Homo sapiens: one gene and its partner. The protein of the gene in region 1 interacts with the protein of each later gene in a biochemical or structural test. Each region holds a gene or a part of one and is shown in the gene's direction. Other genes may lie near its edges.

The links.
Region 2: the proteins of ELOA (region 1) and REXO1 form a complex in vitro, tested with the Homo sapiens proteins (one study listed by BioGRID).

Annotation. Positions count from the first base shown.
Region 1 is NC_000001.11:23,753,372-23,757,177, forward strand, and holds part of ELOA (elongin-A), read left to right. Parts: intron 1-728; coding exon 729-884; intron 885-991; coding exon 992-1,089; intron 1,090-2,471; coding exon 2,472-2,652; intron 2,653-2,902; coding exon 2,903-3,014; intron 3,015-3,581; coding exon 3,582-3,754; intron 3,755-3,806. UniProt on the Homo sapiens protein: SIII, also known as elongin, is a general transcription elongation factor that increases the RNA polymerase II transcription elongation past template-encoded arresting sites.
Region 2 is NC_000019.10:1,817,250-1,821,055, reverse strand, and holds part of REXO1 (RNA exonuclease 1 homolog), read left to right. Parts: intron 1-660; coding exon 661-792; intron 793-875; coding exon of another isoform or gene 876-887; exon of another isoform or gene 888-998; coding exon 999-1,122; intron 1,123-1,924; coding exon 1,925-2,038; intron 2,039-2,212; coding exon 2,213-2,350; coding exon of another isoform or gene 2,351-2,377; intron 2,378-2,460; coding exon 2,461-2,574; intron 2,575-3,275; coding exon 3,276-3,349; intron 3,350-3,597; coding exon of another isoform or gene 3,598-3,612; exon of another isoform or gene 3,613-3,720; intron 3,721-3,726; coding exon 3,727-3,806. UniProt on the Homo sapiens protein: Seems to have no detectable effect on transcription elongation in vitro.

The DNA of each region.
Region 1 (3,806 bases):
AAGTGATGCCTTTTTGCTCTGGGTTTATCACATAGTAATTGTTCAGTAAATTGCTGCTGCTGTTATTAGCAGCCCTTTATCCTATGTGTTACATAGGATTTTTGTCTGAAAGAAAAAAATGTCTAATTTTCATAGCAAAAGAAGTAGAAGCCACATAAGGGTCTATCAGCAGGAGACTAACAGATAAATCATGGTTCATCTACACAGTGGCATCCTATGCCACAGTAAAAAAAAAATGTGGAAAGTCTATGCACTGACATGGAATGATCTCTCAGATGTGGCAAATGAAAAAAAGCAATGTATGTAGTGAGTATGTTATTAATTGATTCATTGGCTTAAAAGGAATAAGATACATTTGCTTTTTTTTGTTGTTGCTGTTGAGAGTCTTGCTGTGTTACTCAGGCTGGAGTGCAGTAGCTCCATCTTGGCTCACTGCAGCCTCCACCTCCTAGGTTCAAGCAATTCCTCTGCCTCAGCCTCCTGAGTAGCTGGGACTACAGGTGCATGTTGGGCAGGCTGATCTCGAACTCTTGACCTCAGATGATTCATGTGCCTTGGCCTCCTAAAGTGCTGGGATTACAGGAGCTTATTTTTAAATTCTCTGGAAGGATCTACAAAAATCTGTAGCGTGGATTGCCATTGGGAAAGGGAAGTAGGAGGCTGAAGGGGGTAGAAGGAGAGTTTTCACTGGATCACTTAGGGCCTTTTGTGTTTTTCTTGCCCTATAGCGTTCTCTTCACCCCAGGAAGAAGAAGAAGCTGGATTTACTGGGCGCAGAATGAATTCCAAGATGCAGGTGTATTCTGGTTCCAAGTGTGCCTATCTCCCTAAAATGATGACCTTGCACCAGCAATGCATCCGAGTACTTAAAAACAACATCGATTGTAAGTCACACGCTTCTCTCTAGCTCTCAAGCACATTGTAGCACTTGGACCTTATCACTGGGTGGCTTGGCTGCTACTCAGTGTCTTCACCTTTGGTTTCTCTGCAGCAATCTTTGAAGTGGGAGGAGTCCCATACTCTGTTCTTGAACCCGTTTTGGAGAGGTGTACACCTGATCAGCTGTATCGCATAGAGGAATACAATCATGTGAGTATTCTGTTTGGGTGGGAAGAGGGCAGTTTTCTGGCTTGTACCTCCAGAAATAGCTTTGTCCCTGTGACTCCGCTGTGGCTGAAGGGCAGATCAGTGGTCAGAGCATTGTTCTGGATATATTTGGTTTGCCACTGGGCCTTTAAACAAGCATGTTATTAGCACTTGCTCCTGGCACCTTAAGTGGGCCTCTTGGGCTAGGATCAGGGTGGGATTCAAAGGGAGAAGAAAAACACTTAACATCTCCCTTGAGCTTGCCTAGTCATGAAGGTAAAGGGAGAATTCTGGCAGCAGAGTAGCTGGGACCCAGGGCGGGGAAAGCACTTTGTGTTGACACTCTGACATCTGGTGATTGGCTGGATGTCTCTTAAGAAACATCAAGATTTATCCAGAATCCTCCTTAGGATGTAGGGTATACACATTTGATTGCATCAGCTGTCTCTCTTTAATTCTGAAAGTTCTATGACCTAACACCTTTTTTTTTTTTTTTGGAGATAGGGTCTACCTCTGTTGCTTCGACTGCAGTACAGAGGCCTAATCATGGCTTACTGCATCCTTGAACTCCTGGGCTTAAGTGATCCTCCCAAGTAGCTGGGACTACAGGCACATACCACCACAGCTGGCTAATATTTTTATTTTTTAGAGAGATGGACTCTCAGACTCTTGGCCTCCTGAAGTGCTGGGATTACAGGCATGAGCCAACGCGCCTGGCCAATAACTTAACATCCTTCTTAGGTTGCCCCTTTGCCATCACAGTTCAGCGTAGTGTTGGGAAGTACCTGATTTGACTTGATCGCAGTTCTACCCTTTGCTGATTTTCTAAAGGAAAAGACTGATGTTACACAGATTTTTGTGATATTCTGTCACAGCCACCAAAAGCAACTAGCATAGTGCCTCACACTTCGCATTTTTAAAATTTAGGGAGTTATTTTTTTCCTAGAATTGTGGTATTTTAACATACTACTAAGATGAAGACCAAAAAATTTTTGGGAAACTGGTCACTCCTAGGTAATTAAATAATCAGAAAAAGATATGAGGCTGGGCATGGTGACACACGCCTGTAATCCCAGCACTCTGGGAGGCCAAGGTGGGCGGATTATCTGAGGTCAGGAGTTCGAGACCAGCCTGGACAACATGGCAAAACCCCATCTCTACTGAAAATATAAAATAGCTGGGCGTGGTGGTAAGCACCTGTAGTCCTGGCTACTTGAGAGGCTGAGGCGTGAGAATCGCTTGAACCCAGGAGGCAAGGGTTGCAGTGAACCAAAATTGCACCACTGCACTGCAGTCTACACGACAGAGCAAGACTCTGTCTCAAAAAAAAAAAAAAAATATGGAAAAGTGCTTGTACACAAATGATGTCCTGGTTCTGGTTTCAGGTATTAATTGAAGAAACAGATCAATTATGGAAAGTTCATTGTCACCGAGACTTTAAGGAAGAAAGACCCGAAGAGTATGAGTCGTGGCGAGAGATGTACCTGCGGCTTCAGGACGCCCGAGAGCAGCGGCTACGAGTACTAACAAAGAATATCCAGTTCGCACATGCCAATAAGCCCAAAGGTAACAGAGACGGGAGAGCTGGGGGAGAACTGGCAGGATGAGTGTTCTGGTCAATAGCAGGGTGTTGGTGGGCTTGGCTGGTGTAGGACTGCTTGCCCCTACATCAGGTAGCAGGGTGGGTATTTCTTCTGCCACCGCCCATTCTACCCTACAAGTGGGGTTTCAGGGCACTCAAAAAGCCCGTGGATTATTTAAATAACAGTAGCATCTCTGCTCAAGAAGGCAGATGTTCATCTCCATAATTCCACAGGCCGACAAGCAAAGATGGCCTTTGTCAACTCTGTGGCCAAGCCACCTCGTGACGTCCGGAGGAGGCAGGAAAAGTTTGGAACGGGAGGAGCAGCTGTCCCTGAGAAAATCAAGTAAGATCTGTGTTCTTACCTGGCTTTTGTGTGCTATCAACCCTTAGAGGTAGCCATAGCGGCAGGAAGCAAATTGCTTTTGGTGAAAGTGAGGCAGTGCAGACTGTGGGCTCTGGAGGCAGACCTCATCAGCTCAGCACTTCCCTCACCTCCCTCAGCCTCCGCTTCTTGGACTGCAGTGCAAGGTGATAATTACCCCTGCCCTAGGGTAGTCAAGATTAAATGGAGAGCAAAGCCTGGCTTATGGGAAACATTCCCTTATGCTTTCCCTTTTCCCATCTAAACAAAAAACACATTTCTGCAATGATTGTTATTTTGTCTAAGCCACATTAGCCTTTTCAAAATACAGATTTATACCAAAACAGTGAAAAGTTAGTTGAGATTATCATTTTTTCTGAAAGGATAATGGAGACATCTCTGAGCCACCACCAGAATCCAGGGTGATAGGGTCCATTGGTCAAAGCCACAAACAGGGTGAGTCATCCTCACACAGGCCAGCTTCAGGCTGTTCATGCTCAGGGCAGATTTCTTGTGCTCATGCCTAACCAGTGTTGTCCTGTGTTGCAGGATCAAGCCAGCCCCGTACCCCATGGGAAGCAGCCATGCTTCCGCCAGTAGCATCAGCTTTAACCCCAGCCCTGAGGAGCCGGCCTATGATGGCCCAAGCACCAGCAGTGCCCACTTGGCACCAGTGGTCAGCAGCACTGTTTCCTATGATCCTAGGAAACCCACTGTGAAGAGTAAGTAACTTGGAGTTCCTGCTCAAATATTATTTCAGCACTAGTTTTTAAC
Region 2 (3,806 bases), on another chromosome or scaffold:
TGTTTTTTTGTTTTGTCTTGTTTTGTTTTTTTGGTTGGTTGGTGTTTTTTTTTTTTGTTTAGAGACAGGGTCTCTGTTGCCCAGGCTAGAGTGCAGGGGCGCAATCATGGCTCACTGCAACCTCGACCTCCTGGGCTCAAGTGATCCTTCCACCTCAGCCTCCTGAGTAGCTGGGACCACAAGCCGGTGTCATCACACCCCAGCTAATAATTTTGTTTTTTATTTTGTAGAGACAGGGTTTTGCCACGTTGTCCAGGCTGATCTTGAACTCTTGTCCTCAAGTGATCCTCCTGCCTCAGCCTCCCAAAGTGCTGGGATTATAGGCGTGAGCCACCACGCTTGGCCTTGTTTTGTTTTTAATTAATAGACTTTATGTTTTTTGAGCAACTTTAGGTTTCTAGGAAAATTGAGCAGAAAGTACAGCAAGTTCCCTTGTGCCCCCATGGCCTCAGTTTCCCATGACCTTAGTTCCGCTGCCCTCAGTTTCCCCTGCTGCTCCTGTCTTGCCTTGGCGTGTCTGTCCCTACTGCAGCCAGGCTGATCTGTCCCAGCGCACCTCACTCTTGCCTCCAGCCATGGGCACGGCCTCATCGCGTCTGCGTTCCCCGCTGGAGGCCTTGTGGAGGCCCTCACCCATGGCAGCTTTTGCCTTCCCTCTAGAGTTTAAAGAAACCCATTATCCCCAAAGAGTTTGGGGGCAAAGTCCCCACCGTCATCCGCCAGCGCTATCTCAACCTGTTCATCGAGGAGTGTCTCAAGTTCTGTACCTCCAACCAGGAGGCCATAGAGAAGGTGAGGTCCTGGAGTTCCTATCTGGCCGGTCGGGTGGGGACTAGGGGTCCAGGGTGGTCCCCAGACATCCCCCGGCCTCTCAGCCGCAGCTGTGACCCGGAGCTGCCTGGGAGAGATGCAAGTCCCCGACCCCATGGCGACCCCACCGCTGGGGCTCCCCGGCACCAGGCAGGCATGGCCTCAGCTGGGCACCGCCTGTCCCCCAGGCACTGAACGAGGAGAAGGTGGCCTATGACCGCAGCCCCAGCAAGAACATCTACCTGAATGTGGCCGTGAACACCCTCAAGAAGCTCAGGGGCCTGGCCCCCAGCGCTGTGCCCGGCCTCAGCAGTGAGTCCTGGCGGGTGGGCGGGGGAGGCTCAGGGTTGCTCTTGGGGTGGCAGCTGGGCTGGGACCCTCGCTGGGACCTTCACAGCCCTGAGCTCAGCCACAGTCTCAGACAAAAGGAAAGCGCGGTGCTGTGGGGGGGCTGCCTGCTGCCTGGTTCCCAGGCTTCTGTGTAGGACGGACCTGGCCCTGGTGTCCTCGCTGTCAGCCGCCTTCCTCCGCTGAGTGGGGTCTCCAAGCCGAGCCGAGGGGCCGCCTGCTAATGGAGCTGCGGCAGCTTCTTCAAAGCAGGAGGCCCAGGGCTGGGCGAGCTCCATGCATTAAGCTCTGGGGAGGAAGAAAGCGGAGACCTGGGCGTTTCATTGCAGCCTCTCCAGGCTGCATTAAGCTATCACCGGCCCCTGCCCCCGTCCCCGCCTGCATTAGCACTCGGAGGGGCCCTGGGTTGGCGTCGCAGGCTGGGTGGCCCATGAAGGCTCAAAGCCCTCGAAAGCCATTAGATCCCCCGTGCTGTTCTCCCCGCCCTTCCCCCTTCGCTTGAGGGGAGGGGACGAAGACTTTGGGTGTGGGGCCTCCGTGCAGCTCTGGGGCCTGCAGAGCTGGCGGCTGCCCTGCGTCCCTGGCTCACCGCATGTCTGCCTCTCCTGTTCGGGTCAGGCTGGAACCCGGGGTCAGTGGGGTGCTGTCCCAGAAAGGGGGAGTTGAGGCAGAGGTCTGAGGAGGGCAGGGTGGGTGGGAGAGCAGGCGGGGCAGGGGTCTGAGCCAGCTACTTCACACCCTCCTCCCCTCCCTCCCTTCCTTCCAGAAACCAGTGGCCGCAGGGTTGTGTCCCACGAGGTGGTGTTGGGGGGCAGGTTGGCCGCCAAGACCAGCTTCTCGCTCAGCCGTCCAAGCAGCCCCCGGGTGGAGGACCTGAAAGGTAAGGCCCTGCCCCTGCTCTGCCACACGGTGCTTCGTGGGCCTCTGCCGGCCCAGCCCCTGCTGTGCCACACGGTGCTTCGTGGGCCCCTGCCGGCCCAGCCGCCTTTCCCGGTGGTGTCTACCGCCCCGTGGGCCATCCCAGGCAGGGGCTGACCACTGTGCCTGTCCACAGGGGCTGCCCTGTACAGCCGCCTCAGGGAGTACCTGCTCACCCAGGACCAGCTCAAGGAGAACGGCTACCCCTTCCCGCACCCAGAGCGGCCCGGGGGCGCAATCATCTTCACAGCTGAGGAGAAGAGGCCCAAGGACTGTGAGTCGCTGGCCTGCGACGGCCTAGGTGGGCAGGTGCGGGATGTGGGCAAGGCCGGGCATGCGGGCCCCAGCGTGAGCCTCAGCTTCCACCTGGGTCCCCACCCACAGCTTCCTGCAGGACCTGCTGCCGCTGTGGCACCGAGTACCTCGTGTCCTCTTCAGGCCGCTGCATCCGGGACGAGGAGTGTTATTACCACTGGGGACGGCTGCGCCGGAACCGGGGTAAGGCCTTACCCGGGTCCTTCCCCTTCCCACCCATGGCCCCCGGAACCTGGGCCCTCCCTTGAGGCCCCCAGAACTGGGGTAAGGCTTTACCCAGGCCCTCCATCCCACTCAGGGTCCCTGGGCTGCACCGTCTTTGGCAGAGCCGGGGCTAGCCCTTGGCCTCATTTTCTCTCCACCTGTTCTTTATGCAAAAGTAAGACAAGAGCTTTCCCATGACAAGGTTCAAATGCCACCACCTGAAAGGCCCTGTGTCCCTGCCTTCCTGTGCCCTTGGTCCATGGAAATGTGGAGGTTGCTGGCCCCAGGAGCGGAGGGGCTTGTCCCACCCTTGGCCTGGTGGTTCTATTCAATCCCCCAGGCAACCACGCAGCCACGCTCAGGGCACATGGCCAGCCTTGCACAGCCCTGTGGCGGCCCCTAAAGCCATCGCCTCAGGGATACCTGGAGGGTGCTGCCCGGGGCAGCGCTGCCAAGAGGCCTCTGCAGAGGGCACTGGTCTCCCTGGATCCAGGCCTGGGCGTCCTGGCTGCCACACGACTGCCGGGGCCTGGTCTGCTTCCAGCTCCACCAAGAGGCTGAGGCCTCCTGTCCTCAGTCCTCACTCCCTAGTAGGGCTCGGTAGATGCAGGTGGTCAGTGCCCCGGGGGCTGTGGAGTGGGCCTGGCCGGGCCCTGACTGTGTGTCTGTGTCCCCTGCAGTGGCCGGAGGCTGGGAGACCCAGTACATGTGCTGCTCGGCTGCCGCCGGCTCTGTCGGCTGCCAAGTCGCAAAGGTGAGCCCTGGCGTCCCAGTCCCCTCTGCCTGTTCTCAACAGACTTCTGCCTCCCCATCGTTGGTGTGGGGTCTCGGGACACAGCACAGTCCTGGGCTCAGGGTCTGGGCCCCCGGGCAGCCTTTCTTGTGTTACCCAGAGAACGTAGCACCCGTAGGCCCCAGGCCCTGTCCCTGGCCACTTCCCATCCTGGGAAGCCGTCCTCCCTGTGTCTTCTTGGCAAGCCCCCTTCCCCACCTGCTCACCAGGGTCCCAACCAGTGAATGGGCGTGATGGATGGATAGGATGGTCCCGAAGGGCTCAGAGATGTGCTGCTGCTGCCACCCCCGCCCCCACTGCACCCCGAAGCTGCCCTCACCTGCCTTCTCCACCCCCAGCAACACGTGCAGGATGGCCGGAAGGAGCGCCTTGAGGGCTTCGTGAAGACCTTTGAGAAAGAGCTCTCAGGAGACACCCA